Linked DNA regions of Homo sapiens. The protein of the gene in region 2 purifies or fractionates together with the protein of the main gene of each other region. This does not show direct contact. Each region holds a gene or a part of one and is shown on either strand. Other genes may lie near its edges. The genes, in order: PLTP, DPEP2, QSOX1, KDELR3, POGLUT1, POGLUT2 and ARSK.

Region 1 (3,891 bases), on a different chromosome or scaffold from region 2:
TCCAAAGCTCAGCTCTGTCACTTCCTGGCTGTGTGAACGTGGCCAAGTCACTGAAGCTTGGTGCCTCAATATCCTCATTTTATAAGATCCTATTTTATAAGATCGTTGTCAGGATTATTTGTGTTGGTATATGTAAAAAATATTTAGAACAAGGCTGGCTGTGGTGGCTCATGCCTGAAATCCCAGCAATTTGGGAGGTCTGGGCGGGCGGATCACAAGGTTAACAGATCGAGATCATCCTGGCCAACATGGTGAAACCCCATCTCTACTAAAAATACAAAAATTAGCTGGGCGTGGTGGCACGTGCCTGTAGTCCCAGCTACGTGGGAGGCTGAGGCAGGAGAATCGCTTGAACCCGGGAGGCGGAGGTTGCAGTGAGCTGAGATCGTGCCACTGCACTCCAGCCTGGTGACAGAGCAAGATTCCATCTCAAAAAAAAAAAAAAAAAAAAATTTAGAACAGCACCTGGCATATGATAAATGTATATTTAAGTGCTGGCCACTTAGATAAGAGTAACTGTGAGGACTATCTGATATGCACATTTGGCCATGTACTGGATTCTCAATAATTGGTATCTCTAAATAATAATAACAAAAATAATAATTTTTTTTTTGAGAGGGAGTCTCACTGTGTCACCCAGCCTGGAGTGCAGTGGCGCCATCTCGGTTTACTGCAACCTCCACCTCCTGGGTTCAAACGATTCTCCTGCCTCAGCCTCCCAAGTAGCTGGGACTACAGGCATGCACCACCATGCCCAACTACTTTTTTTGTATTTTTAGTAGAGACAGGGTTTCGCCATATTGGCCACGCTGGTCTCAAACTCCTGATCTCAGGTGGTCTGTCCGCCTCGGCCTACCAAAGTGCTGGGATTACAGGCCTGAGCAACTGTGCCCGGCCTATTTTTTTATTTTTGCTGCTGAGAAGGGGATATTGTTCTTGTTCTGGAAGAGGATGGGGGAGAGAAGATGATGGATTATAACCTGGTGTTGGTACACTGTCAGTATTATTTATTCATCAAACAAAGTGTATGCCAGTCCCTGAGGATGCAGGAAGGAGCTCAGAGCCTATCTGGAGCAAAAAACATTTGATATCAGGGCCTGGAGAGAAGGACTAAGAAAATGCTTTGGGGATTCAGAGGAGGGGAATCTGGGAAGACTGCCTGGAAGAGGAAGCATCTGAGCTCAGATGGGAAAATACAGAGTAGGAATGCAGAGGGCGGAAGGGAGGGCATCAGTAAGCCGATGGATGTGGGGATGCTCAGAGTGGGTTTGAGGCAATGTGGGTGGATTCATTTGACTGATGGGACCAGAGAGTAGGTCAGGAGGTCTTGAGAATTAGACTGGAGAGGGAATTTGGGCCTGGTTCTTGGAAAACCTACGTGGAGGAGCTGTTATTCAGGCTGAAGCTGAGGACTCCTACTGCCACTATTTCCCTAGTCACTGATTTCTCCTGGACCTGGACTGGGGTGGAGGCAGGTTCTGGGCTCATCCGGCCTCTCCTCTCCTCACAGGAAGGTGTATGATTTTCTCTCCACGTTCATCACCTCAGGGATGCGCTTCCTCCTCAACCAGCAGGTGTGGGCAGCGACAGGTCGCAGGGTGGCAAGGGTGGGCATGCTCTCACTTTGAGAAGGCCCTGACTCTGGCTCCCACCTCGCAGATCTGCCCTGTCCTCTACCACGCAGGGACGGTCCTGCTCAACTCCCTCCTGGACACCGTGCCTGGTGAGTTGGTGGCGGGTGAGTCTGGGTGTGCAGCTGTCATGCAGCACCTCAGAGCAGGCCCCTTCCGAGCCCTGCTGTTGAACAGTCCTGGGTTCAAATGTGGCCCCTGGAGCTGACTTGTTGTGCGATTTTGGGTGAAGTGCTCATTTCTGTCTGGGCAAAGTGCTTGTTTCCTCACTTGGCTGGCAGTGCCTCCTCCTGGGGTTGCTGTGAGGATTATCTGAGAGAATAGTTGTCAAGGTCCTCAATATGTGCATGCTGATCACTGGCATCCCATTTGTCTTCATCACCTAGCATCTAATAGGTGCTCAATTAACATGAATTCCCTTTTTCTTTTTCTTTCTTTTTTTTTTTTTTTTGCACGGAGTCTTACAGTCTCACTCTGTTGCCAGGCTGGAGTCCAGTGGCGCGATCTCAGCTCACTGCAATCTCCACCTCCCGGGTTCAAGCAATTCTCCTGCCTCAGCATCTCGAGTAGCTGGGACTACAGGCGTGCACCACCATGCCCAACTAGTTTTTTGTGTTTTAGTAGAGACGGGGTTTCACCATGTTGGCCGGGATGGTCTCGATCTCCTGACCTCCTGATCTGCCCACCTTGGCCTCCCAAAGTGCTGGGATTATAGGCATGAGCCACTGTGCCTGGCCATGAATTCCCTTTTTCTAAGCCATGACCTCTGTCTACTGTGGGGCAAAGGTATTTTCCCATCACACCTAACACACAGGCATGGGAAGCGAAGGAGGAGGTAGGAGAAACCAAGGGAAAGGAACCTCATGCCATCTTTTTTTTTTTTTTTTTTTTTTGAGATGGAGTCTCGCTCTGTCACCCAGGCTGGAGTGCAGTGGTGCAATCCTGGCTCCCTGCAACCTCCACCTCCCAGGATCAAGCGATTCTCCTGCCTCAGCCTCCTGAGTAGCTGGGATTACAGGCGCCCACCACCATGCCCAACTAATTTTTGTATTTTTAGTAGAGACGGGGTTTCACCGTGGTGGACCAGGCTGGTCTCGAACACCTGACCTCAGGTGATCCGCCCGCCTTGACCTCCCTAAGTGCTGGGATTACAGGTGTGAGCCACCATGCGCGGCCCCCCCATGCCATCTTGTTTAGTTATTTTTTTGAAACCTCTATAGTGGTAGTAATAATAATAACTAACATTAATGAGCACCTAACTACACACCAGGCCCTAAGTGCTTTCCACATAAAACTAATTTGACCCTCATGACAACCCTGTGAAGGATGTATCCTCATTTTATGGGTGGGCCTCTGAGCCTGGAGAGGTTAAGCACCTTATCCCACATCACACAGCCGTGAGTGACTTGAGCCCCTTCCTGCAGTGCGCAGTTCTGTGGACGAGCTTGTTGGCATTGACTATTCCCTCATGAAGGATCCTGTGGCTTCCACCAGCAACCTGGACATGGACTTCCGGGTGAGCTGCTTGGGCTGGTGTATGACCTCTGACTTCCTAACAAGACCTCTTTCTCTGCTAAGTTGCAAGATTTTACTTCTTAAAGCACAGCTCTGATGAGGCCACTCCCATTACTGAGAATGCTATGGCTCCCTGTTACTACAGAATTAGGTTCAGCCTCCTGGGTCTGGCATTTGAGCCCCTGTTAATCTTACCTGGCCCCACCTTTTATATCTCATCCTGTTTCTTTGCAGCTGCTCTTTCCCAAATTGGACCCTGGCTTCCCACCTCAGGGCCTTTGCTCATGCACGGCCTTTCCCCAACTCCCCCGAAGGAGCTGGACATAAATTTCTATACAAATAATCTCATTTCATTCTCTCACAACCCTGTGAGTCAGGTACTAACATCATCCTAATTTTAGGAATGTGGAGACTTACTCATAGAGGTGACGTCACTTGCCCAAGGCCACATAGCCAGTGTGTAGCCACTACCTTTGGTCTCCCAGAGGAGTATAGCAGTTTCAGAGTGCAGACTCGGGAGCTAGAATCAGTCGGGTGCAGTGGCTCATGCCTGTAATCCCAATACTTTGGGAGGCCCAGGCGAGAGGATCGCTTGAGCCCAGGAGTTTGAGACCAGCTTGGGCATCATAGTGAGACCTCCTTCTCTACAAAGAGAAAAAGAATGCCTGAAGTTCAAATCCTAGCTCTGCCACTGACTAGCTGCACGGCCCTAAGCATAAGTTTTCAGTTGGCCAGTTTCCTAACA
Region 2 (4,514 bases):
GCTGGTGGATCACCCGAGGTCAGGAGTTCGAGACAATCCAGCCTCATCAACATGGTGAAACCCCATCTCTACTAAAAAAAATACAAAAATTAGCCAGCCTGGTGGTGCATGCCTGTAATCCCACGTACTTGGGAGGCTGAGGCAGGAGAATCGCTTGAACCTGGAAGGTGGAGGTTGCAGTGAGCCGAGATCGTGCCCTCGCACTCCAAAAAAAAAAAAAAAAAGCACCCCAGGAATGTTGGACAGAGAGGCTGGCGGGGTAGGGGTTGGTTGGTAAGGCTTGAGCAGAAGGTTCTAGATGCATTCAGGAGATAAAGATGCATTTGGGGTTATTGCACTTCTCCTAGAAACATAAACATTGACTTCCTTTTGTGGAAGAAAAATGTTATGTTAGCTATTTGACGTTTCAGGAAGGGTGGCTTCAGCTTGGTGATTGGAGGATGTTTGTCTACAGTGGCCAGGCTGCTTTCTGGCTTGGAAGACTATTGTTTCTTGGGAATTGTCTGTATCAGACATCATGGGAGCAGATCCAGGGCGACATCAAAGGGAAGCATGAGTCTCCAGGACCAGAGGGGCTTGGATGCAGATGATCATCATCTGGGCACTGCTGGATACTGAGTAAGCCCCAGCTGCACCCCACCTCTGCGCTCTGAGCATGGGAGGCAGCCTGTGCAGCTATAACTCAGCCTGACTTTTTCCTTCCCTGCATACTCTTGAAATACACTGGAGATGAGTAGGGGCGAGTGAGCTGCACACCAGAATAAGTTTGGTCCTTGGAGCAAACTGTTTCTACTGCTGCCTCCTCTGCAGGTCTTGATTTATGCAAACACTGCATAGAAGAGGAAGTAGAGGGAAAAGCTGTTCACCCACCTACTCCTTCCTGGTAGCAAGATTTCCTATCCTGGCCTTGCCTCAACAGCCCTACCAATTGGAGGCTGAGGTTGTGCCAAGGCTCTATGGGGGGACGTAGCATCACTGAGGTGGCCAGATTTTGGAGGACAGGAAAGTTTGTGCTATTTGCTGAGACTGGAGAGGCTGGTGAGAGCAGACTCTCCATGAGTTGAAAGCCAAAGAAAGAAATTCGGTAGATTTCTGCAATGAGAAGCCACGGAAGAACTTCAGGCAGGAGGATGCATTGGATCTTGTTTTCGTTTTGTTAGAGATGGGGTCTCACTCTGTCGCCCAGGCTAGGGAGCAGTGGTGCCATCGTCTCTCACTGCAACCTTAAACTCCTGGGCTCAGGCGAACCTCCCACCTCAGCCTCGTAAGTACCTGGAACCACAGGCATGCACCACTTTTTTTTTTCCTTTTTCTTAGAGTTCTCATTATGTTGCCTAGACTGGTCTCAAACCTCCGGCTTCAAGAGATCCTCTCACCTCGACCTTCAAATTACTGGGATTACAGGCATGAGCCACCATGTCCTACCAGACTTTGTTAAAAGAGGAACAGGCCAGGCATCGTGGGCTCACATGAACACTCATGCCCCAGAAGTAAACAAGTGTTAGCCAACCAGGAGGCCTATCCTCCCCCTAACCTCACCCAAAGCCATCTCTGTGCCCTCCCCCTTGCAGGGGAAACAGCACACACTAGTGAAATCTTGTCTTAGTGTGTCCGGAATTGGTGGGTTCTTGGTCTCACTGAGTTCTAGAATGAAGCTGCAGACCCTCGCAGTGAGTGTTACAGCTCTTAAGGTAGCGCGTCTGGAGTTTGTTTCTTTTGATGTTTGGATGTTTGGAGTTTCTTCCTTCTGGTGGGTTTGTGGTCTTGTTGGCTCAGGAGTGAAGCTGCAGACCTTCGTGGTGAGTGTTACAGCTTTTAAGGCAGTGCGTCTGGAGTCGTTTGTTCCTCCCAGTGGGCTTGTGGTCTCGCTGGCTTCAGGAGTGAAGCTGCAGACCTTCGCGGTGAGTGTTAAAGCTCATAAAAGCAGCATGGACCCAAAGAGTGAACAGTAGCAAGATTTACTGCAAAGAGCAAAAGAACAAAGCTTCCACAGTGTGGAAGGGGACCAGAACAGGTAGCCACTGCGGGCTCAGGCAGCCTGCTTTTATTCTCTTATCTGGCCCCACCCACATCCTGCTGATTGGTAGAGCCGAGTGGTCTGTTTTGACAGGGTGCTGATTGGTGCGTTTACAATCCCTGAGCTAGACACAAAGGTTCTCCACGTCGCCACCAGATTAGCTAAATACAGAGTGTCGACACAAAGGTTCTCCAAGGCCCCACCAGAGCAGCTAGATACAGAGTGTCAGTTGGTGCATTCACAAACTCTGAGCTAGACACAGGGTGCTGATTGGTGTGTTTACAAACCTTGAGCTAGATACTGAGTGCCGACTGGTGTATTTACAATCCTGAGCTAGACGTAAAGATTGTCCACGTCCCCACCAGACTCAGGAGCACAACTGGCTTCACCCAGTGGATCCCGCACCAGGGATGCAGGTGGAGCTGCCTGCCAGTCCTGCGCCATGCGCCCGCACTCCTCAGCCCTGTGGTGGTCGATGGGACTGGGCGCTGTGGAGCAGGGGGCGGCGCTCACCGGGGAGGCTCCGGCCGCACAGGAGCCCATGGAGGGGGTGGGAGGCTCAGGCATGGAGGGCTGCAGGTCCCGAGCCCTGCCCCCCCGGGAAGGCAGCTAAGGCCCGGTGAGAAGTCGAGCGCAGCGCCTGTGAGCTGGCACTGCTGGGGGACCCAGTACATCCTCCGCAGCCACTGGCCCGGGTGCCAAGCCCCTCATTGCCCGGGGCCAGCAGGGCCCGCGGGCCGCTCCGAGTGCGGGCCCGCCAAGCCCACGCCCACCCGAAACTCCAGCTGGCCCGCAAGCGCCGCTCGCAGCCCCGGTTCCCACTCGCGCCTCTCCCTCCACACCTCCCTGCAAGCTGAGGGAGCTGGCTCTGGCCTTGGCCAGCCCAGAAAGGGGCTCCTACAGTGCAGCGGTGGGCTGAAGAGCTCTTCAAGTGCCGCCAAAGTGGGAGCCCAGGCAGAGGAGGCCCCGAGAGCGAGCGAGGGCTGTGAGGACTGGCAGCACGCTGTCACCTCTCATTAGGAGCTGCCAATATCAGTGGCACAGACCTGAGCACAGGGATAATTTGGGGTCAGAGGCTACAGTCTAAGTTAGCTAGATGCTGGCAGTGGGCAGAGTGGAAACAAGGCAGAGGCGGGGAAACTCAGGGCCTGACTCCAGAGCCGACCTTAAGTGTCACCGCTGATTCCTCCTTACTGTCTCCCACCAACCCTGCTTCAAAGCATCTCCAAATCCTGGGTTCAACTTCCAAACATGTCCCAGGAATGTCTCCTTCCTGTTCCCACTGCTTCTCCCCCTTACAGGCCCCTTCATTCCTTACCCCTCCTGATCTCCTGGCCTCCAGCCCATTCCCTACAGAAAAGCCATACCTATTTCTTCCATTTTAAAAAATGTGAGCTGGGCGCGGTGGCTCATGCCTGTAATCCTAGCACTTTGGGAGGCCAAGGTGAGTGGATCACGAGGTCGGGAGATCAAGACCATCCTGGCTAACACGGTGAAACCCCGTCTCTACTAAAAATACAAAAAATTAGCCGGGCGTGTTGGCGGGCACCTATAGTCCCAGCTACTCGGGAGGCTGCGGCAGGAGAATGGCCTGAACCCGGGAGGCGGAGCTTGCAGTGAGCCGAGATTGTGCCACTGCACTCCAGCCTGGGCGACAGAGCGAGATTCCATCTCAAAATAAATAAACAAATAAATATAAAAATAAAAAATTTGGCCAAGGGTCGGGGGTGGCTCATGCCTGTAATCCCAGCACTTTGGGAGGTCAAGGCAGGCGGATCACCTGAGGTCAGGAGTTCGAGACCAGCCTGGCCAACATGGCAAAACCCCATCTCTACTAAAAATACAAAAATTAGCCGGGAGTGGTGGCATGCGCCCGTAATCTCAGCTACTCGGGAGGCTGAGGCAGGAGAATCACTTGAACCCAGGAGGCAGAGATTGCAGTGAGCCAAGATTGCACCATTGCACTCCAGCCTGGGCAACAAGAATGAAACTCTGTCTCAGAAAATAATAATAATAATAATAATAATAATAATAATAATAATAATAATATCATTATCTATTTTTTTACAGACAGGGTCTTGCCCTGTCACCCAGGCTGGAATGCTATGGTGTTATCATAATGCTCACTGCAACTACAAGTGTGGGTGTGTCTGTGATTCGCTTTGTATGGTCCCCTCAAGGCCACATTTGAGGACTGAAGTTGCATATCATGGAAAATTGTGTTGTCTGGCTTATCTCCTACAGAGACAGTGCTCACTTTTACTGGCTCAACTCAGCCTGCCTCTGCTGAGCTAGCAGGTACCCCAAGTCCCAGGAGGTCAGACATTCGGGCTCTGGAGAGAAGCTTAAAAAAAAATGCAAAAAGTTGGCCGAGTGCGGTCGCTCACACCTATAATCCCAGCGCTTTGGGAGGCCGTGGTGGGTGGATTACCTGAGGTCAGGAGTTCAAGACCAGCCTGAACAAAATGGAGAAACCCCATCTCTACTAAAAAATACA
Region 3 (3,891 bases), on a different chromosome or scaffold from region 2:
GTCTTCCCACCCCCACCCCATACCAAGGCTGCTGGAGAGGAGCCTGGCCCAAGGTGGCGCTGCCCCTCTTGGACCTCCAAGAATGCCGCATGGAGCAGCCCCTCAGGGCTGTAGTCCCTCTACACCTACATTGGGCCCCTCCAGCCTGGACCCCCACCCCTCCCACTTCCTGGCTTCCCATCCTTCAGGTCTCGCAGAAGCCTCCTCAACACCCTCCCTGCTTGGTCTCTATCCTTCAGAACCCTCATCACAACCTGTCCTTGCCTCTAGAACGGAAGCCCCATAGCAGCAGGGACCACGTATCTGTTTTAGCTTCAGTTTCTAGCCCAGTGCAGCATTGTGAAAATCCTTAGTAATATTTTTAAAAAGTTTTCGAATTCTACTTTTCTTTGCTGACTTGGCATGTGCTTTCTCCTCTGCCCGTAACCCCCGTTCCTCCTTATTTCCTTGCTAACACCTACTCGTCTTTCAAAGCTCCATGCCACTGTCTCCTTGAGGAAATTGTTCCTGTGCCCCCAGTAGGTAACACACCAGACAGAGGCGAGATTCTCTATCCCGCCCCAGACAAGGAGCCTTTGCTTTGCAGGGCTCCCCTTGGGACCCTCTCTTGCCAGGAGAGCCTCTAGAGAAGCCATCTAGAAGGGCATTCAAGACTCAGCAAGCTCCAGCTCCCAGCCTGGCAGACTGGGTGGGGGAGGGCCCAGCTGGTGGGCGAGGCTGGTTTATCGATGTTGCCGAGAGCCCTGGGGAAATCAAGGTGAAAGGCAGCCACGCTGCTGAGGAGGCCCACCCGTTTATCAACCAGAGGGGCTGGGGCCGGGCGAAAAGAGGCTTGGCTGCCAGAGGCAGCTGTGAGGTGGGAGGTCCACACCACTCCGTGGACCTGGAGGCTGGGCTACACACTGTGCAGCCCGGGCTGCTGCGACAGTGTTTCCAACATGGCGCTAATTCTAGGTAACTAAGTTTGGCTTTAGAAATACCGTCACTGGAGCCACAGGGCTTGCTGACAGAAATCCCCAGCACTTGGCATTGGGCAAGGAGCCCTTAGGGGGTGAAGGGCAGGCTTATTCAGCGGCCTTGGTGCAGTGGGCACACAGGGCACCGGCCCTGGGAGCCTCTGTCTTCCTCTTGCAGGCCAGGGTTGCCTCCTGATTGTGGGTTCCTGTCTGTCTCTCAGGCCCCCAGCCAGGGCCAGCCCAAGGGAGCAGGGGGTGCAGAGCACAACCAGGAGGATGGAGCCAATGGGTGCCTGGAGCAGGGGCACAGAGAGGGAGTCCAACCCAGGAGCCCAGCAAGGCGCTGCAGCTAAAGAGGTCGAGGGAAACATGCAGGGAGACTGCCATCCCTCCCCAGCCCCAGCTGCCCCATAGCAGGAGTGGCCTTGGCATCCCACCTGCTCCACATAGCACCCAGGCCATCTGAGCAGAGTGAAGATGTCAAAGAGAAAACCAAATCGGATTGAGGCTCCTGCTCCCCCTTAATGAGGTTCATTATCAGCAGCTCTGATCCTTGTAAAACCCAGCAGGCCGGATTAGGGGCAGGCTCTCTAATCCTGGCTGACTCCTCCCCACCGAGTGGCCAACCCTGCAGCTCTGACAAACAAGCCCTTGCTTCCTGGAGGAGCTGGAATTAGGCAGGTGCAGACAGGCTTCTCCCTCACCAGCCCAGGGCACTGAGGCAGGAGCTCTCAGGGAGGATTGGGGCAGGGGGTGGCAAGGCTGCACATCCAGAGGCCTGTCTCCGTGCATGAAAAGGCCATGGGGTTTGGGTGCAGACAGTTCTATGGGCAGTCTGTGGCCAGGAGCTGTGTGTGCTGAGGGACATCGAGTCTGGCTGCATTCCAGGTGAGGCTGGTCTCTGTGCATTCTGTCCAGACTGGACACTAGGTCTCCAAGTAGCAAGTTAAAGAACACACCAATGCTTGCCTTAACAAAAATAATTTATTCCACACACCTCCCAAGGCAGGGGGTAGCGTGGGAATCAAGCATGTGTAAGGCACTGCCCCCGCCAGACCCTTCTAACTTCTGCACACTGGAAGGTGAAACCTGGAGAGAGAAGACACTCCCCTCCCTAGCTTCTACCTGGCACCCTCCAAAGATGAGCATTCATCTTGGAGACCAAAATAAAAAAGGACAAAAGACCAGGCTCAGAGGGAGCAGAGCTCAATGGGGGGAAGTGAAAGCAGCCATCTTCTCCTGCAGCTAAGCCAGGGCAAGGCACTAGAGACCCACATCCTTCCCATGCCACCAACTCGTCAGGTCCCACCAAGCAAGCCACTCACCCTACAGCCCAGCAACCATGGCTTGCCTCACCTGGGAGACCAGCACGACTTCCAGAAGCTTCCAAACCCCACCCTGAAGCCAAACCCCACCCAGGAGGTCTGAGGAGCTGGAGGCTGGCCAGGCATAGAGGGCCCGGGGTGGTCCTTCCTCCCAGGGTGCAAAGGCTTCTTCATTGTCCGGAAGGGAGCAGGGTGGGCGGAGCCCCAGCAGCTAGTGAGGAGTTCCATTCCAGCCCACCCAGCTGGGGGACCCTCCTCTGGCTTCACTTGCCCCAGTTGAGGGCCAAGACCAAGCAGGAGAGACTGAGGCTCCAGTGAGAATGAGGCAGGACTTCAAATAAGCTGAAAAACAGGAATGTGGTGCTAAGAGGCCAGGGACTGAGCTGCCCTATGCCCACTGCCCGGGGCTGCCCTCCCTGCACAGCAGGGGAACCTGGACCCTGCTCCTGTCTTTTGTGTCAAAGGAGCTCTCTGTCCTAGCAACCCCAAGAAGCTTCACTGGAGCAACTCGTTTTCCTGAATTTCCCACACTTCTAGGCCAGACAAGGAGCAAGGGGTGGGAGGGGAGGGAATGGGGTCAGGGGGCTTGAGGTGCCTAGAGATGGCAGCTCCCTCTCCCGCCTCCTCCCCAGGTGGTTCAGGCTGCAGGGTGGCCAGCATGGCCCTTCAGGGCCCTTATCTTGGCCTGGAAGTAGGTGTACATGGCCAGCAGGCCCATGAAGGACAGGGAATAGAGCCCCACACAGAGGCTGATGTCCAGGTAAGAGAAGCCCCCTCCCAGCACCTGCAGCCACTGGCCTCGGCCCCGTCCAGCTCGGGCCTCCAGCTGGCCCTCAGGGATGTCGACCAGCTGCTTGGAGCTGCGGCCCACGCGCCTGACCTCCAAAGGGCCCCAGAGGCGGTTCTTCTCAGCCCTGGACTCAGCCAGCAATGCAGCCCCTGTGTCTCGCTTGCTCAAGTGCCACTGCCCAAGCGGCTGCTCCTGCTCATTCCTCTGAAGCTCTGCCATGTGCTCAGGAGGCTCCTGGCCTGGTGCAGCTCTGAGGCCAGGGTGCAGCTTCGGGGGTCGACTTGCCTCAGGTCCCTCAGCCGGCACATGTGGGGTGGTGTTTGTGGGGGACTTCATCATCTCAGGCTTCCCAGGGTCCAGAGTTGAATTCCGGCTTTCCAGCTCCAGGGCTCCCATCGCCAGCTCTGGGGCGGCTGCCACATTCTGCACATCCCTCCGGGCAGCTGACCCAGCTGCAGGGAAGTCCAGGATGATGTTGCTTGGGGAGAAGTGGGCCTTGAGGAAGTTGAGGGTGGCTTCCACGTCCCACACGGGCACATCCAGGCGTTCATTGTGGCAGGCAGAACAAAGTTCACGGGGTGGCCACTGCACCTTGGGGAACTGGGGGTCCTCGCTGGGGGCACCTACAGAGGGAAGCATACACAGGCTGGTGGTGACATCAGTCCCACCCAAAAACCCAGACCACACTCCTCCACTCAGAACGCCAGCTTCCTTGTCTGCAGAAAGGGCTCGCCACTGCCCTTCCAGAGGATGGGTAATTAGAAAATACAGATTACAAACACTAGCCCACAGTGGGAGCTCAACAGATGGCAGCATGGAG
Region 4 (4,368 bases), on a different chromosome or scaffold from region 2:
ACGCCTGTAATCCCCGCACTTTGGGAGGCTGAGGCAGGCAAATCATCTGAGGTCAGGAGTTCGAGACCAGCCTGGCCAACATGGTGAAACCCCATCTCTACTAAGAATACAAAAATTAGCCTGGCGTGGTGGCGGGCGCCTGTAATCCCAGCTACTTGGGAGGCTGAGGCATGAGAATCGCCTGAACCAGGGAGGCAGAGATTGCAGTGAGCAGAGATTGTGCCACTGCACCCCAGCCTGGGCCACAGAGCGAGACTCTGTCTCAAAAAAAAAAGGACTGCCTTTCCCTGGGAGGAAAAGTAGGGAAAGTAGGGGGCATAGGGAGCCATAGAAGGGTCTTGACCACTGAAGTGACAGATTTTTATCACAGAAAAGAGGCTGGCCATAGTGGCTTATGCCTGTAATCCCAGCATTTGGAAGGCTGAGGCAGGCAGATGGCCTGAGCACAAGAGTTCGAGACTAGCCTGGGCAACACAGTGAGACCCCATCTCTGTTTAAATACATTTGTCATGGAAAAGCCTCTCTGGTTATCTGTGGCAGGAGGTGGGAGTGGGAGGAGGTCCGTTATTTAGAGAGAGATGAGGGCGCTGAATGGGAGGAGGGCTTATTCAGGTCAAGGAGGGGAGGCTAAGGGCCCTCAGCTCACCTGGTCCACTCTTTCAGACGCAGAGACTTATATCCAGAGGGGGTGGTGGACCTGCTCAGACCACACAGCCCTGGGAGGACTCCCTCCCACCAGGGACCCTTCACTCCCCACCCTTCCTGGTGCTCAGCCCTCCTGGGTCTCTCCTGTCCTGTGTGTCCCTGTTTAACATCCTAGTAACACCAAGAAGAGGGAAGGCACGAACGAGGGCCCTGGATCTCCCTGACCAGCTTGACCTCCTGCCTACCCACAACAACCCGATTTTACAGGTGAGAAAATTGAGACCAAGAGAGAGGAAGGCCCACCGACCCAGGCTGCAGCCGAGGTCAGTCTGATTCTGCTGCTGAGTGGTGTGCCATTACCATTGTCCACCTGCAGCAAGATCGGGTCCCGACCGGGTGGACAACCAAATTAACAGACGGAGGTGGGGACTCCGCTTCCGGCTCGCCCCGCCCCACCCCACTCTCCCAGGGAGGGAGCTCCAGCTCCGGGAAGATGAGGACAATAGCAGGAATCGCCCCACAGGGTACTTCCACGTGCTGGCTCCTGCCAAGCGCTGGCACCAGTGTTATGGGGCCTGTGTACAGATGAGGAAACTGAGGCAGAGATTGGGGCTTGGTGGCAGGCCTCCAGTTTCTGCGGAGGGAAGGCAGAGGGCACTTGGGGCATGGGCGACATGGGTCGTGGCGGGCACCCGGCGCACACGGCAGCCGGGCGCAGGCCAGAAGCCCCCCCGCGTCGCCGGGCCGCCCAGTCCGGGAGCCGGGCGCTGGGATGGGCGGGAGGCGGGATCTCCGGGCCGCGCCGCTTCCTGGCTCCCCACCCTGCGCCGGCGGCCGCCCTGGCCACGTCACCGCCCGGCCAAGAGTGCGTGGGCGGCGGCGCGCGGGTGCGATCGCGGAGCTGTGAGGCGCAGGCAGGGCTCTGGGGCACCTAGAGACCGGGGCCGGAGACGTGGCAGCCGCCCTGCCCGCCAGAAAGTTTCCTAGAAGTTTGCTGGGCGCGGGCGCACGACTGACTGGCTGGACCATGAACGTGTTCCGAATCCTCGGCGACCTGAGCCACCTCCTGGCCATGATCTTGCTGCTGGGGAAGATCTGGAGGTCCAAGTGCTGCAAGGGTGAGGGGCGCCTGGCAGGGAGGTGCGGGACCCCCTCTCTGGCCAGCCTCATGCCCCTGCGTGCAGGGCAGGGCGCTCCAGGTGTCTGCTCAGGGTGGGGACTCCGGCGTGGGGGTCCTTGAAACTTTGCGGAGCTCCACTTCCAAAAACAATGTAAAGTTGTATAAAATCAGAGGAGGAGGACCCCTCGAGATGATGGGAGGCGGGTGGGTTTGTTCCTGCACAGACGCCCCCTCAGGTTGGCAGTGTCACTGCTGGTTGGAAGAGGGGGTTATAAGGGAGGTGACAACCCCTCCCTCCCACCAGTTACACCCATTGTTCCTTCCACCATCGACTGTGGGGAGAAGCAGATATGCACTCAGGAACGGCCCACGATTCTCAAGGTCTTCTCTTCCCTGCCCCTTCCCAGACCCCACCCCGCCCCCCAAAGTGAGCCCTCGTCCCTCCCCTGCCTGCATGTGTGGCACCGGTGGCTGTGATGTGGCAGGAGGGCACCAGCCGGGCTCAGGCGGGTATGGAGCTGCCTCTAAACGGAAGCCGGGGAAGGCTGGAGGGGTCCCCTGTTTGCATTCTGGCTGCCCTGCTGGGGGTTTGGAGAAGCTTGGAGGCTGGACTCGCGGTCGCCAACAGATCCAGAGCCACGAAAGGCTGCCAGAGCCTCCTCCAGCCATCTTTGTCCACCGGCATCCTCGTGGTGCCCTCCCTGTGCCTGGCACTGGGTGTGCAGAGGCAGGAGTGAGCTCAGGCTCCTCGTGGGGCTGAGGAGGCTGAGAAGGCTGAGAGTGGGCCCCGAAGGCCCTGTGGAAGGAGCAGCTCCGTGCTGGTCCCGGAGGACGAGCAGGTGTCAATCCAGGAAGTGTGTGCTGTGGAGGGCTCCGGGGATGAAGAGGCATGGAGGTCACCAAGCACCGGGCATCCCCCGGGAAGGGTGGGCAGCCAGATTTGGGGTGGTCTGGAGGGAGATGAGTCCAGGAGGGAGGCTGGTCCAGATGTGAAAGGGCCTTTTCTGCCAGGCCAGGGAGTTGGGTCTGGGGAGCCCTTCATGGTTTGGGAGCCGGGAAGGGGCCTGGAAGGGGGCCTGAACAGGTTGCTTTGCAAGCTTTGAGAGAAAAGGCACAGAGCAGGGGGAGGCCTGGCAGGGTGGGGGTTGGTGCAGACATGAGCAACAGTACGGTGTGGAGGGAGTGGTTCTAGGCCTGGAGGCCATTTGGGTTTGGGGTCTCTGGAGAGACAGGTACAGAGACAGTTCAGGTTCTTCCTCAGGGGAGGTGGCCAGGAATGCTGAGTGGGGGACCCGGAGCAGCAGGCCCTGGTGAGGGGAGAATCAGCTCCAACCTCTTCCTGCACTTTTGCAGAAGGCCCTGCACGGAGTGAGCAACCATGACCAAGAGGGGACACTGGTACCTGGCCGCTGTCTGCCAGACACTGCTGGGCACCTAGAATACAGCCCGGACAGCAGAGGCCCAGCCCTGGTGGAGCTGACTTTCTTTTATTTATTTTTTATTTTTATTTTTTAACAGAGTTTCGCTTTGTCCCTGAAGCTGAAGTACTGTGGTGTGATCTCGGCTCACTGCAACCTCCACCTCCCAGGTTCAAGCGATTCTCCTGCCTCAGCCTCCTGAGTAGCTGGGATTACAGGCACGCACCACCACACCCGGCTAATTTTTGTATTTTTAGTAGAGACGGGGTTTCGCCATGTTGGCCAGGCTGGTCTTGAACGCCTGACCTCAGGTGATTCACCCACCTCGGCCTCCGAAAGTGCTGGTGCTGGGATTGTAGGCGTGGGCCACTGCGCCCACTTCTTTTTTTTTTTTTTTGAGACAGAGTTTTGTTCTATCCCCTAGGCTGGAGTGCAGTGGCGCAATCTCGGCTCACTGCAACCTCTGCCTCCCAGGTTCAAGCTATTCTCCTGCTTCAGCCTTCCAAGTAGCTGGGATTACAGACGCCCGCCATCACACTCAGCTAATTTTTGTATTTTTAGTAGAGACGGGGTTTCGCCATATTGGCCAGGCTGGTCTCGAACTCCTGGGCTCGAGTCACAGGTGTGAGCCACCATGCCCGGCCAAGTGGTGGACCTGACTTTCTAGTGGTAGGAAGCCATCAATAAACAATAGTCCTAGGAAACTGAGCAAATGACACGGTTTGTTGGAGGCCATAGTGAGTACTATGGGAACAGAAAAAGGGCAGCTGGGTGGCAGGGATGGGCCTGTGTGTGCACAGAGAGAAGTCAGAGGTGATGGAGGCAGGGCCTGGTATGACCTCAACAGACCCAGCCCCAAAGACCAGAGACTTGGGCTTCACTCTCACTCCTCCCCTTGACTCGCTGTGTGACCCTGGGCCTGTGTTTTCCCATTTGTCAAATGGGAGTGAGGGCTGCCCCTGGCAGTGGGGTCCACCTATGCTTAGTGGACCCCGGAGGGACTCTGGCCAGTCCAGGCTCACATTGTCCTCTGTGTCCCGGGTCTCCATGTGCAGCTTCCTGGTGGAAATGATTGTTTTCAAAAGTGTGAAAACTATTGTGCTCAAGATCACCGGGGGGCTGGGCACAGTGGCTCACACCTGTAATCCCAGCACTTTGGGATGCCAAGGCGGGTAGATCACATGA
Region 5 (3,891 bases), on a different chromosome or scaffold from region 2:
TTGAATAAAATGGGAAGGTATCAAAAGAAAAAAGTATTCATATAAGATTAGACTTTAAAACATTCTATCTGCCTAAAAATTGCTTACTAGTTTACCTGGGGGAAAATGGTATTAATAACTACACGGTGGAGTAACTGGATAACACCTTGACCCCAGGAGTTTGAGTCCAGCCTGGGCAACATAGTGAGATCCTGCCTTTTAAAAATAAACAAACAAACAAATAAATAAAGTGACTCTTTCATATGTACTGACATGAAACAAAGACATGGAAAGATTACTTAGATACACCAATAAGTTAGGGGGAAAGTTGCCTGAGTTATACATATTTGTAAAATTTTATGAGCATATATAGGTTTCATAATCAGTAAAAATGTTTTTAAAGATTTTGAAAACAAAGCAGCTGCATGGCAGGTGGGAAAAGAGCTACAAAAAGAAGAATGTGAAAAGGGTATTTGCAAGTACCTGAGGAGGGGGGGAAAGGATTAGAAAATTAAGGCCAAGGCCAAGAATAACTTAGGGAAAAAAAAGTTTAAAACCTTTTTTCCAGCTTAGTGTGGTGGCTCATGCCTGTAATCCCAGCACTTTGGAGGCCAAGGTGGGAGGATCACTTGAGCCCAGGAGTTTGAGATCAGGCTGGGAAACATAGCAAGACCTGTCTCTACAAAAAATTTTAAAAAACAACCAAGAAACAAAAAAACCACACCTTTTTCCCCCCCTCTCAAAATTATGTTCAAAACCCAAAAATAAACAAGAAATGACAGTCTCAATGTCAGGAAAACACAAGGAATATTAACCAGTAAAGTAGGTTGGATAATGCACTTGGAAACCTGGTCTTTAGGCCTAGATTTGCTTCTGACCTTGACCAGATCACTAAACCTTTCTGTACCTTCATTCCCTTATCCCTGAAATAAAGGGCTGGACAAAGACAATTTCTAGTTCCAGTTCTGTAAAATATGAGACTAAGTTATTATTTTTTAAAATTTCCAAATTATACCCACTAGAGAAGTTTGTTTTTTAACAAAGGGCTCTACCCACCACTGAGGACTGCAGCCCTGTACGTTTCTTCAGGAAGGGAATATTACCTTAATCCTCTTTGAATCTTCAGCCACACTTGGGAGAGGTGATAGGTATTTATGGAAACAAGGTTGAATTGTTTGCTTTCCTTATACCTGAGAGAAGGCCTATAATGACTGTGTTTCCGGAAGTTCTCTAATTAAGCACCAAAGTTGTTTGAATCATGATGTAAAATGTAGCTAGGTAAGAAATACCTACAGCTTGGATGAGCTACACAATCTAAATTCTGAAATGATAGCAGGATGGAGTCAACAGGCCAAGGCATGTCTCAGTCATGAATCAGAGAGGATCTGGAATAAGCTTGTACTTGAGATGCTTATGGGACATTTATGCTCCCTCAGCCCTGCCTAAACTACTTAGCTCTCAATTGCCAAGTATGTTTATATTCTTCCAAATAATTTTCTATCCCCCCTATGACGAGGTCATTCATTTTTTCTTACTATGAAAGAATGCACTCTTATTTAAAGAATCTTAAGTATAGAAAAATTGAAAATACTGACTGAGCACAGGGGCTCGTGCCTGTAATCCCAGCACTTTGGGAGGCCGAGGTGGGTGGATCACTTGAGGCCAGGAGTTCCAGACCAGCCTGGGCAACATGGCAAAACCACATCTCTACTAAAAATACAAAAAATTAGCCAGGTGTGGTGGCACATGCCTGTAATCCCAGCTACTCGGGAGGCTGAGGCAAGAGAATTGCTTGAACCTGGGAGGCAGAGGTTGCAGTGAGCCGCGATAGCACCACTGCACTCCAGCCTGGGAGACAGAACATGACTGTGTCGCAAAAAAAAAAAAAAAGAAAGAAAAATTTAAAATACAAAACAAAAGTCTCTGATAATCCCTTGCAAAGAGGCATTGCTGATAGTTTAGGATAGACTATTCTGCCCCTTTCTATGGATATGTAAATATTATTAGACACGTACAAAATTGTTTACACTACAGTTTTCTGTCTTTAATTTTTAACTTAAAAATTAGTCACTTAAAAATAAATAGGCTGGGCGCGGTGGCTCACGCCTGTAATCCCAGCACTTTGGGAGGCTGAGGTGGGCAGATCACCTGAGGTCAGGAGTTCAAGACCAGCCTGACCAACATGGAGACACCCCGTCTCTACTAAAAATACGAAATTAGCCGGGTGTGGTGGCACATGCCTGTAATCCCAGCTACTCGGGAGGCTGAGGCAAGAGAATCACTTGAACCTGGGAGGCGGAGGTTGCGGTGAGCTGAGATCACGCCATTGCACTCTAGCCTGGGCAAAAAGGGCGAAACTCCGTCTCAAAAAAAAAAAAAGTAAATAATTGGTTATATTCTATGGCTTATTTCAAGAAAACCCAGAAAGAGAAAAAATAAAACCTCTTTAAAGGACCTACCTTACCAGATCTTCTCTGAAGAGGTCCCACCGTCCAAGACCTGTAGGATAAATTGGCCAAACAGCAGGTCCCCCTTCCCAAAATGTCCAAGCAGGATACATGATATCATGGTACTCTGATGTCTTCAACAAAAACAGACAGGTCGTCCTAAATCAGTCTTGGAACAGTGAAAAGAGGCAACTGCAATCATGCCACAGGATCTGGACAGCCTTGGTTTAGTGTCACATTGTCAAAGATATATTTTCCCTATTTTCCAAAGTCTAGCCTGTAGACATTAAAAGGCAAAAGTGACTATGGATTAAAAGTCATGGGCTCACTGAATTCCAGAATTCAGAATCACATTAAAGGTCAGCTTTTTCAGTTCCCCCAAATTCTGTTTTTCTAGAGGATATATACTGTTAAGATTTCCAATTTAAGGAAACAATATGCCCAATTCTGAATAATCACAGAGCTCTCTCATTGTTTAACTATTACATTTAAGAGTTTACACTGTCTTACCAGTTTTTGGTTATTTCCCAATGGGTTTTTTTGAGAGTAAGAGCCAAGAAATACATGCAATGGTTAAGAGTGTGGGCTCCTGATGTGGATCACATGGGTTTGGATTCTGACTCCACCTCTTTACAGCTCTAGGCAAGTTACTTAATGGTTCTATGCCTCAGCTTCCTTATCACTGTAATGGGGGAAACAATAATATCAATAATATGATCTAACTAAAAGGTTTATTTTGAATATTAAATGAGTTGATACACGTAAAATTCTTAGAACAGTAGCTGGCACATTGTACATACTTGATAAATATTGGCTAGTGTTATCTCATACTATGGCACTGTTGGGCTCACATTGATTGGTCAATAAATTCTTGGTTATTCACTGATCGGGGTCAGAAGTATGGATGAGCAAAATGAGAAGGGGTGTTATCACATATCTTTTGAAAGAAGTTTGAGGTTGGGCACGGTGGCTCACACCTGTAATCCCAGCACTTTGGGAGGCCGAGACGGGTAGATCACCTGAGGTCAGGAGTTTGAAATCAGCCTGGTCAACATGGTGAAACCCTGTCTCTACTAAAAAATACACACAAAATAATAGCCGGGCATGGTGGCAGGTGCCTATAGTCCCAGATACTCAGGAGGCTGAGGTGGAGAATCACTTGAACCTGGGAGGTGGAGGTTGCAGTGAGCTGAGATCGCGCCACTGCACTCCAGCCTGGGCAACAGAGTGAGACTCTGCCTCAAAAAAAAGAAAAAAGTTTAAAGCCATATGTTCCCCCCTTTTTTTTTTTTTTTTGATCCACCTGCCTCGGCCTCCCAAAGTGCTGGGATTACAGGTGTGAGCCACTACACCTGGCCTCCATTTGTTCCCTTTTTATGGTTACTTCTGTTAAAAATCTGGCCACTGATAAACCTCTAACTCTACTATTTCTTCCACTGGAAATACATGTGCAATATGCTGTTTG
Region 6 (3,891 bases), on a different chromosome or scaffold from region 2:
CTCCGCCTTCCGGGTTCAAGCGATTATCCTGCCTTAGCCTCCCATGTAGCTGGGATTACAGGCACGCACCACCATGCCAGGCTAATTTTTGTATTTTTAGTAGAGACAGGATTTCACCATGTTGACCAGGATGGTTTCGATCTCTTGACCTCATGATCTGCCTGCCTCAGTCTCCCAAAGTGCTGGGATTACAGGTGTGAGCCACCATGCTCGGCCATTCTGATGTTTCTTATATAGGATGAGAGTACAGTTTTATTACCTAGAGCCATCTCCTTCCCTCTTACAGGCGACAGTACCACAAGACAGTAGGGAAGCAGTGTATATACAAAGGCAGAAATCTTGTCCCCCCCTTAACAACCCCAAGAAAAGTAAACTTTTTTTTTTTTATTTTTGTGAACTCTGCAGAGAAGTAAGAAAAGGTAAACACTTTTCAAGAGTGTCTAGGTTCCTTTCCTACATTCTGCCAGTACAGCCTGGTACAGTATCACCCACTAAACCTTAAAAAGATATTCCATTGTCAGCCACTGCCTGGGTTAGGTGGGATCTGAGAATTATAAAAAGGAATAACAGTAAAAACCTCAGTGCAGACTGTAATTAATTTGTTATAAAATTAGTGAAGTGGACTGTTTTGAGAATTACTTTTGCTTCTTTTTGTTGCCGTTGTTGTTGAGACAGGGTCTCGCTCTGTTGCCCAGGCTGGAGTGCAGTGGTGCAATCACTGCTTACTGCAGCCTCGACCTCCTGGGTTCAAGCAATCCTCCCACCTCAGCTGCATGAGTAGCTGGGACTACAGGCACTCACCACCATGCCCCACTAATTTTTGTATTTTTTGTAGAAACAGGGTTTTGCCATGTTGCTCAGACTGGTCCCGAACCCTGGAGCTCAAGTGATCTGCCCACCTCAGTCTCCCAAAGTGCTAGGATTACAGGCGTGAGCCACTGTACCCAGCTACTTTTGCTTTTTTTTTTTTTTTTTTTTTTGAGACGATGTCTCGCTCTGTCACTAGCCTAGAGTGCAGTGGTGCAATCTCGGCTCACTGCAAGCTCTGCCTCCCGGGTTCAAGCGATTCTGCTGCCTCAGCCACCCAAATAGCTGAGACTACAGGGACGCGCCACAACACCTGGCTAATTTTTGTATTTTTAGTAGAGACGGGGTTTCACCATGTTGACCAGGATGGTCTCGATCTCCTGACCTCGTGATCCGCCCGCCTCAGCCTCCCAAAGTGCTGGGATTACAGGCATGAGCCAAGAACCCAGCCTACTTTTCCTCCTTAATAATTCTTAAAAAAAAAAAAAAAAAGAATAGCAGTTCCTTGTTTATTTTTGCTGTTATTGATGATTTACTTATTGAGAAAAGTACCTTAGACACTTTAAGAACCTGTTTGTATAACAGACCATCAAAATAGTAAATCATATCACTTTTGTCTTTCATTAAAATAGGTATGCTCCTCTGATACCCTTTTACCAGTATTTGGTTATTCTTCAGTCTGCAAAACATAAGGAATAATGAGCTGTAATATTACCATAGACATAAACCAAGTATCTGTTGTCTTTCTTTTATTTTTTGAAACAAGAGTCTCACTCTGTCCCCCAAGCTGGAGCACAGTGGCACAATCTCCGCTCACTGCAACCTTCACCTCCCAGATTCAAGCTATTGTCATGCCTCAGCCTCCTGAGTAGCTGAGATTTCAGGCACACACCACCATACCCAGCTAAACTTTTTTGTATTTTTAGTAGAGATGGGGTTTCAACATGTTGGCCAGGCTGGTCTCAAACTCCTGACCTCAAGTTATCCACCCACCTCAGCCTCCCAAAGTGCTGGTATTACAGACGTGAGCCACTGCACCCAGCCTCTATTTCCTTTCTTTTGAACTCATGCAAAGTAGACCTTATTATTATGAAAATATCACAAAACTTCACTGTGAAGAGCTGTCAGAGTAGAAGGCTGACTTACTTGCAATGCCCCAGTATAGTAAAAATGTATTACTTTTTTTTTCTTTGAAACGGGCTCTCACTGTCTTGCCCAGGATGGAGTGGCGCAAACATGGCTCACTGCAGCTTCAACCTCCTGGGCTCAAGTGATCCTCCCACGTCAGCCTCCCAAGTAGCTGAAACCACAGGTGCATGCCAACGCACCCAGCTAATTTTTTATTTTTTGTAGAGACATGGTCTCCCTGTGTTGCCCAGGCTGCTCCCGAACTCCTGGGCTCAGGCTGTCTTCCTGCCTCAGCCTCCCAAAGTGCTGGGATTACCGACATGAGCCAACCTTGCTGGCCTGTAATTCTCTTAAAATGTGTTTTCAATGAAAATGCTCTTCCTATGTAACTAAGCAAAATTCATGAAGCCACATTATAGATGTTTATTACAAGTTTCGAATGCTGAGTGAAATGATCACTGTTGTACTTTGTTATTCTTATGTAAATAGGGCCGGTTTACCATGAGAACTGTGACTGTCCTCTGCAAGATAGTGCAGCCTGGCTACGGGAGATGAACTGCCCTGAAACCATTGCTCAGATTCAGAGAGATCTGGCACATTTCCCTGCTGTGGATCCAGAAAAGATTGCAGTAGAAATCCCAAAAAGATTTGGACAGAGGCAGAGCCTATGTCACTACACCTTAAAGGATAACAAGGTACAACACATGATTTTTTGCTTGTTTGTTTTAGTGATTTTTTTTCTTGTTTTGAACATTTGGCTACAATTAGCTAAATCATTTTATAAACATCATTCGAATGAGCACTGTGACAAGCTTTTCCTCAGTGAAGTCTGCCAGCGTCTTTAGACTAACATAATAAATGGTAAATTCTCTTTTAGGTTTATATCAAGACTCATGGTGAACATGTAGGTTTTAGAATTTTCATGGATGCCATACTACTTTCTTTGACTAGAAAGGTAAGTATATATTTTCTCTTAGCTGTAATAGATAATTTAAGCCCAGATTTTACAGGATAATTTTTCAAAATACAAATTATACACTATCAGGGTATTCTCTTCTGGAGCCTTATGATAATACTATTCTGAAGCTTTCTGTTATTTCAGGTACCTGCGTTTGTTTCCTAGGGCTGCCGTAACAAAGTGCTACAAACTGGAAGCCTTAAAATAACAGAAATGTATTCTCTGGCAGTTATGGAGGCCAGATGTCCAAAATCAAAGTGTCAGCTAGGTGCCATGGCTCACGCCTGTAATCCTAGCACTTTAGGAGGTCAAAGCGGGTGGATCACTTGAGCCCAGGAGCTTGAGACCAGGCTGGGCAACATGGTGAAGACCTGTCTCTACAAAAAATACAAAAATTAGCCTGTAGTAGTTTCAGCTAATGGGGAGCTGAGGCAGGAAGATCGCTTGAACCTAGGAGGTCGAGGCTGCATGAGCCGAGATCACGCCACTGCACTCCCAAGGCCTGGGTGACAAGAGTGAGATCCTGTCCCCCCCCAAAAAAAATTAAAGTGTCAGGAGGCCAGCTCCCTCTGAGATGATCCTTTCCTTTCCTTTCCTGCCTCTTCCTGGCTGCTGTCAGTGGCCCTCCATCTTTGGTGTTCCTTGGTTTGCAGCTGCATCCTCCCATCTCTGCCTCTGTCATCACGTGGGCTTCTCCCCTCATGTCTCTGGGTCTCTTCTTATAAGGACACAGCATAGTGGATTAATGGCCCAGCCTACTCCAGTATGACCTCATGCTAACTAATATCTGCAACAACCCTATTTCCAAATAAGGTCATTCTGAGACACTGGGATTTAAGACTTCAGCATATCTTTTGCAGGGACACAATATTTTATAGAGGAAAGAAAAATGCCTTATCATAAAATTATTTTGGTACTAAACTAACTCTGAGTCCAAAGATGACTTGCCTTGTACTGAATCCCATTCCTTGGGATAATGGGCTTTTGTTGGGTTCTAG
Region 7 (3,142 bases), on a different chromosome or scaffold from region 2:
ACTCCAGCCTGAGTGACAAGGGAAGACCCTGTCTCAAAAAAACAAAAAACAAAACAGAAACAAAGAAAATAGAATGGTCCAGTGGAAAATAAAATGTTCAGAAATGGCATAAGTATAAATGGGACTTTGGTATAGATAAAAATGGCATCGCAAATCAATGGAGGAAAAGATAATGTACTCAACCAAAGGTATTATATGATGAAGTGACATTTTTACGAATGGGAGAAGAGACAGTTTACTCAATAAAAGATCAATGGGTAGGCATATTTAAAAAAACAACCAAAGTTAGATTTCTAATATGTTTAATACATTCCAGCTGGGTCAAAGATCCAAAGGTGAAAAATAAAATTATAAAAGAAGACAAGTGGAGGCCAGGCGCAGTGGCTCACGCCTGTAATCCCAGCACTTTGGGAGGCCTAGGTGGGCAGATCACCAGGTCAGGAGATCAAGACCATCCTGGCTAACACGGTGAAACCCCATCTCTACTAAAAATACAAAAAATTAGCTGGGTGTGGTGGCGGGTGCCTGTAATCCAGCTACTTGGGAGGCTGAGGCAGGAGAATCACTTGAAACCGGGATTGCACCATTGCACTCCAGTCTGGGTGACAGAGCGAGACTCCGTCTCAAAAAAAAAAATGACAAGTGGAGAAGGCCATTCTAAATATGATACAAAATCCCAAAAGCCACAAAAGCAAAGATCTGTAAATTTTGTACTAATATTTTTAATTGACAAATCATAATTGTATATACTTATGGTGTACAAAGATTCATAAATTTGCTTACATGAAAATAAAAATTTCTACATATCAAAAAATACCAGAACAAAGTCAAAAGACAAATGACAATGACAAACTGGAAAGAAGATATTTGCAGGATCTCTTACAAAAAGCTAATATCTAAAGCACACCTGTAATACAAAACAAAGACCAACAACCAACAGAAAAATAGGCAAAGAATAGAAATAGGAAAGGCCATGGTAAAGCAGATTCCAGTGGCTGTTAAATACATGAAAATATGCTCTACGTTACTCATAAAAAGAAAAATAAAAATAGAACATTTTTATCTGTTAGGTTGGCAAAGGATAAGAAGACATGCATTGATGGTGAGATTATCAGTTAGTATACCTTCTTTAGAGGTAATTTGTAGTATCTAGTGTAATTTTGCTAAATATAGTCTTGACTCAGTAATTTCACCTCTAGATATCTACTGTTAAGTGAAAAAAAAAAGGAAAAAGAAGCAACATGCAGAACAATGTGTGCAGTATGTTACCGTTTGTGTAGGGGGAAAGGAATATATACATTTGTTTATAAATTTGTGGCCAATCTCTAAAAATGCGTAAGCAGGTGGTTTCGGTACTTGCTTCTTGGAGGGGGAACTGGATGGCAGGGAAGAGGGAAAGGACAGAGACTTCACGATCACTGTTAACCCTTTTGTACCATTTGAAGCTTTTACCCTGTATATATATTACCTATTAAAATAAAACAGTAACAAAATCAGGTACATCCAGGGTTTACATCCCGTTAAATACTCCAAATACTCCCATTAAATACATCCAAACAATCCCATCAAATACAAGTAACTCATCGAGCACCATCAAATGCTCACATACAACTATTTTATGATACATATTATTACAATATTTTATATTCTCTATTATTTAAAGGAACATAACTGTTACAGTATTTGCTTCAATTCTTTTGATACTTCCACTAAATTGTTAGAAATTGTACAAAGGCCTAAATAATAACCATTTTTGAAAATATGTGATTTTATAATCATTGGCATTTTATCTTAAAATACACTACATTCTTACAAAATAATGAAAAATTGGTAATTATTATTATTTTATTTTTATTTTTTTGCGACACAGTCTCACTCTGTTGCCAGGCTGGAGTACAGTGGCGCAATCTCAGCTCACTGCAACTGCTGCCTCCCGGGTTCAAGCGATCCTCCTGCCTCAGCCTCTGAGTAGCTGAGACTATAGGTGTGCACCACCGCGCCCAGCTAATTTTTGTATTTTTAGTAGAGACAGGGTTTCACCATGTTGGCCAGGATGGTCTCAATCTCTTGACCTTGTGATCTGCTTTCCTCAGCCTCCCAAAGTCCTGGGATTACAGGTGTGAGCCACTGTGCCCGGCCAAAACTTGGTAATTATTAAAACTGTTTCATTTAAAATACATAATTATGATCTTGTAATATATTTATATGTATCTCTAGAACACTATTTTTAAACTTTTTGTTCAAACTGCTCTTGGATTCATATGGGTTTTAAGCCACTGATCAATTGCATTTTCATACTTCCTTGGTTCCTTCTGCCAGTCTTGGTGCCACCTAAGATTTGCTATAACGTTTGAATAATTCTGTCCTATACTTTGTTTCCACTTGATAAACTGCTCTTTATTATACTGGTGGACAGAAGCAGAAACTTTAGGGTAGTTTATAATGGAATGAAGCTTCTGATCCAAAGAATAAGTAATTTCTGGAAATTTTACAGCAACATTTGTTAATTCATCTGGATCCGAGGAAAGATCTGAAAGAAAAAAAATAAGTATCTGTCAAAATAGTGACCTGCTAAAAATTTTTTTAGAATGTCATTATGACAGGTAATGTATTAGATTTTTTTTTTAGATTTTCAGTTCCTGTTAGTGTAGTAAAATGAAGGACAGTATAAATGGTAAAATAACATACCAGGAGTTAAACACCCTATGTTGCATGCCCAAATTCCCTCCTTCCTACCATTGTCCAGCTATCCCACTTTTTTTTTCTTTTCTTAAATGCCAGAAAAAGTCAAACTTTTATCATTAGTAAGCTGGTTTAGAACAAGTTCTTCCTGTTTTTGATGTCCTGCCTACTTTGACAGGCAGAAATGAATACAGTAATGCTTATACTGTACCATTTTAACAGCCTCAAACTTTCTACAAATTCTTTATATAGACAAGTCATGTTCCTGCAACTTTACTTAGTCCTAGTTTTCTTTATATATTAGTATCTTATGCTTGGAGTTTTGAAAGTTACATTCATCAGTACTGTCCATTTGAACAAACAGCCATGGAAATACAAACTTCTCAATCACTGCCAGCAAGAAAATAATGATAAATATTTCAGATCCATAAAGATACTTTTTAGATATGGTATGGGAAGA

Evidence for each region.
Region 1: the proteins of DPEP2 (region 2) and PLTP purify together in Homo sapiens (affinity purification with mass spectrometry; 2 studies listed by BioGRID and IntAct, with this or other methods). This does not show direct contact.
Region 3: the proteins of DPEP2 (region 2) and QSOX1 purify together in Homo sapiens (affinity purification with mass spectrometry; one large-scale study listed by BioGRID and IntAct). This does not show direct contact.
Region 4: the proteins of DPEP2 (region 2) and KDELR3 purify together in Homo sapiens (affinity purification with mass spectrometry; 2 studies listed by BioGRID and IntAct, with this or other methods). This does not show direct contact.
Region 5: the proteins of DPEP2 (region 2) and POGLUT1 purify together in Homo sapiens (affinity purification with mass spectrometry; 3 studies listed by BioGRID and IntAct, with this or other methods). This does not show direct contact.
Region 6: the proteins of DPEP2 (region 2) and POGLUT2 purify together in Homo sapiens (affinity purification with mass spectrometry; one large-scale study listed by BioGRID and IntAct). This does not show direct contact.
Region 7: the proteins of DPEP2 (region 2) and ARSK purify together in Homo sapiens (affinity purification with mass spectrometry; one large-scale study listed by BioGRID and IntAct). This does not show direct contact.

The regions. Positions count from the first base shown.
Region 1 is NC_000020.11:45,905,524-45,909,414, reverse strand, and holds part of PLTP (phospholipid transfer protein isoform a precursor), read left to right. Parts: intron 1-1,510; coding exon 1,511-1,574; intron 1,575-1,659; coding exon 1,660-1,723; intron 1,724-3,055; coding exon 3,056-3,147; intron 3,148-3,891. UniProt on the Homo sapiens protein: Mediates the transfer of phospholipids and free cholesterol from triglyceride-rich lipoproteins (low density lipoproteins or LDL and very low density lipoproteins or VLDL) into high-density lipoproteins (HDL) as well as the exchange of phospholipids between triglyceride-rich lipoproteins themselves.
Region 2 is NC_000016.10:67,996,552-68,001,065, reverse strand, and holds the start of DPEP2 (dipeptidase 2 isoform 1 precursor), read left to right. Parts: upstream 1-1,581; 5' UTR 1,582-1,649; coding exon of another isoform or gene 1,650-1,691; exon of another isoform or gene 1,692-1,799; intron 1,800-4,514.
Region 3 is NC_000001.11:180,196,065-180,199,955, reverse strand, and holds part of QSOX1 (sulfhydryl oxidase 1 isoform a precursor), read right to left. Parts: intron 3,695-3,891; coding exon 2,919-3,694; 3' UTR 2,624-2,918; coding exon of another isoform or gene 2,615-2,623; 3' UTR 1-2,614. UniProt on the Homo sapiens protein: Catalyzes the oxidation of sulfhydryl groups in peptide and protein thiols to disulfides with the reduction of oxygen to hydrogen peroxide. Plays a role in disulfide bond formation in a variety of extracellular proteins.
Region 4 is NC_000022.11:38,466,562-38,470,929, forward strand, and holds the start of KDELR3 (ER lumen protein-retaining receptor 3), read left to right. Parts: upstream 1-1,534; 5' UTR 1,535-1,672; coding exon 1,673-1,763; intron 1,764-4,368.
Region 5 is NC_000003.12:119,478,720-119,482,610, reverse strand, and holds part of POGLUT1 (protein O-glucosyltransferase 1 precursor), read right to left. Parts: intron 3,435-3,891; exon of another isoform or gene 2,937-3,434; intron 2,704-2,936; exon of another isoform or gene 2,561-2,703; coding exon 2,439-2,560; intron 1-2,438. UniProt on the Homo sapiens protein: Dual specificity glycosyltransferase that catalyzes the transfer of glucose and xylose from UDP-glucose and UDP-xylose, respectively, to a serine residue found in the consensus sequence of C-X-S-X-P-C.
Region 6 is NC_000013.11:102,792,340-102,796,230, reverse strand, and holds part of POGLUT2 (protein O-glucosyltransferase 2 isoform 1 precursor), read left to right. Parts: intron 1-2,424; coding exon 2,425-2,630; intron 2,631-2,810; exon of another isoform or gene 2,811-2,812; coding exon 2,813-2,890; intron 2,891-3,891. UniProt on the Homo sapiens protein: Protein glucosyltransferase that catalyzes the transfer of glucose from UDP-glucose to a serine residue within the consensus sequence peptide C-X-N-T-X-G-S-F-X-C. Can also catalyze the transfer of xylose from UDP-xylose but less efficiently.
Region 7 is NC_000005.10:95,602,625-95,605,766, reverse strand, and holds the end of ARSK (arylsulfatase K precursor), read right to left. Parts: intron 2,531-3,142; coding exon 2,241-2,530; 3' UTR 665-2,240; downstream 1-664. UniProt on the Homo sapiens protein: Catalyzes the hydrolysis of pseudosubstrates such as p-nitrocatechol sulfate and p-nitrophenyl sulfate. Catalyzes the hydrolysis of the 2-sulfate groups of the 2-O-sulfo-D-glucuronate residues of chondroitin sulfate, heparin and heparitin sulfate.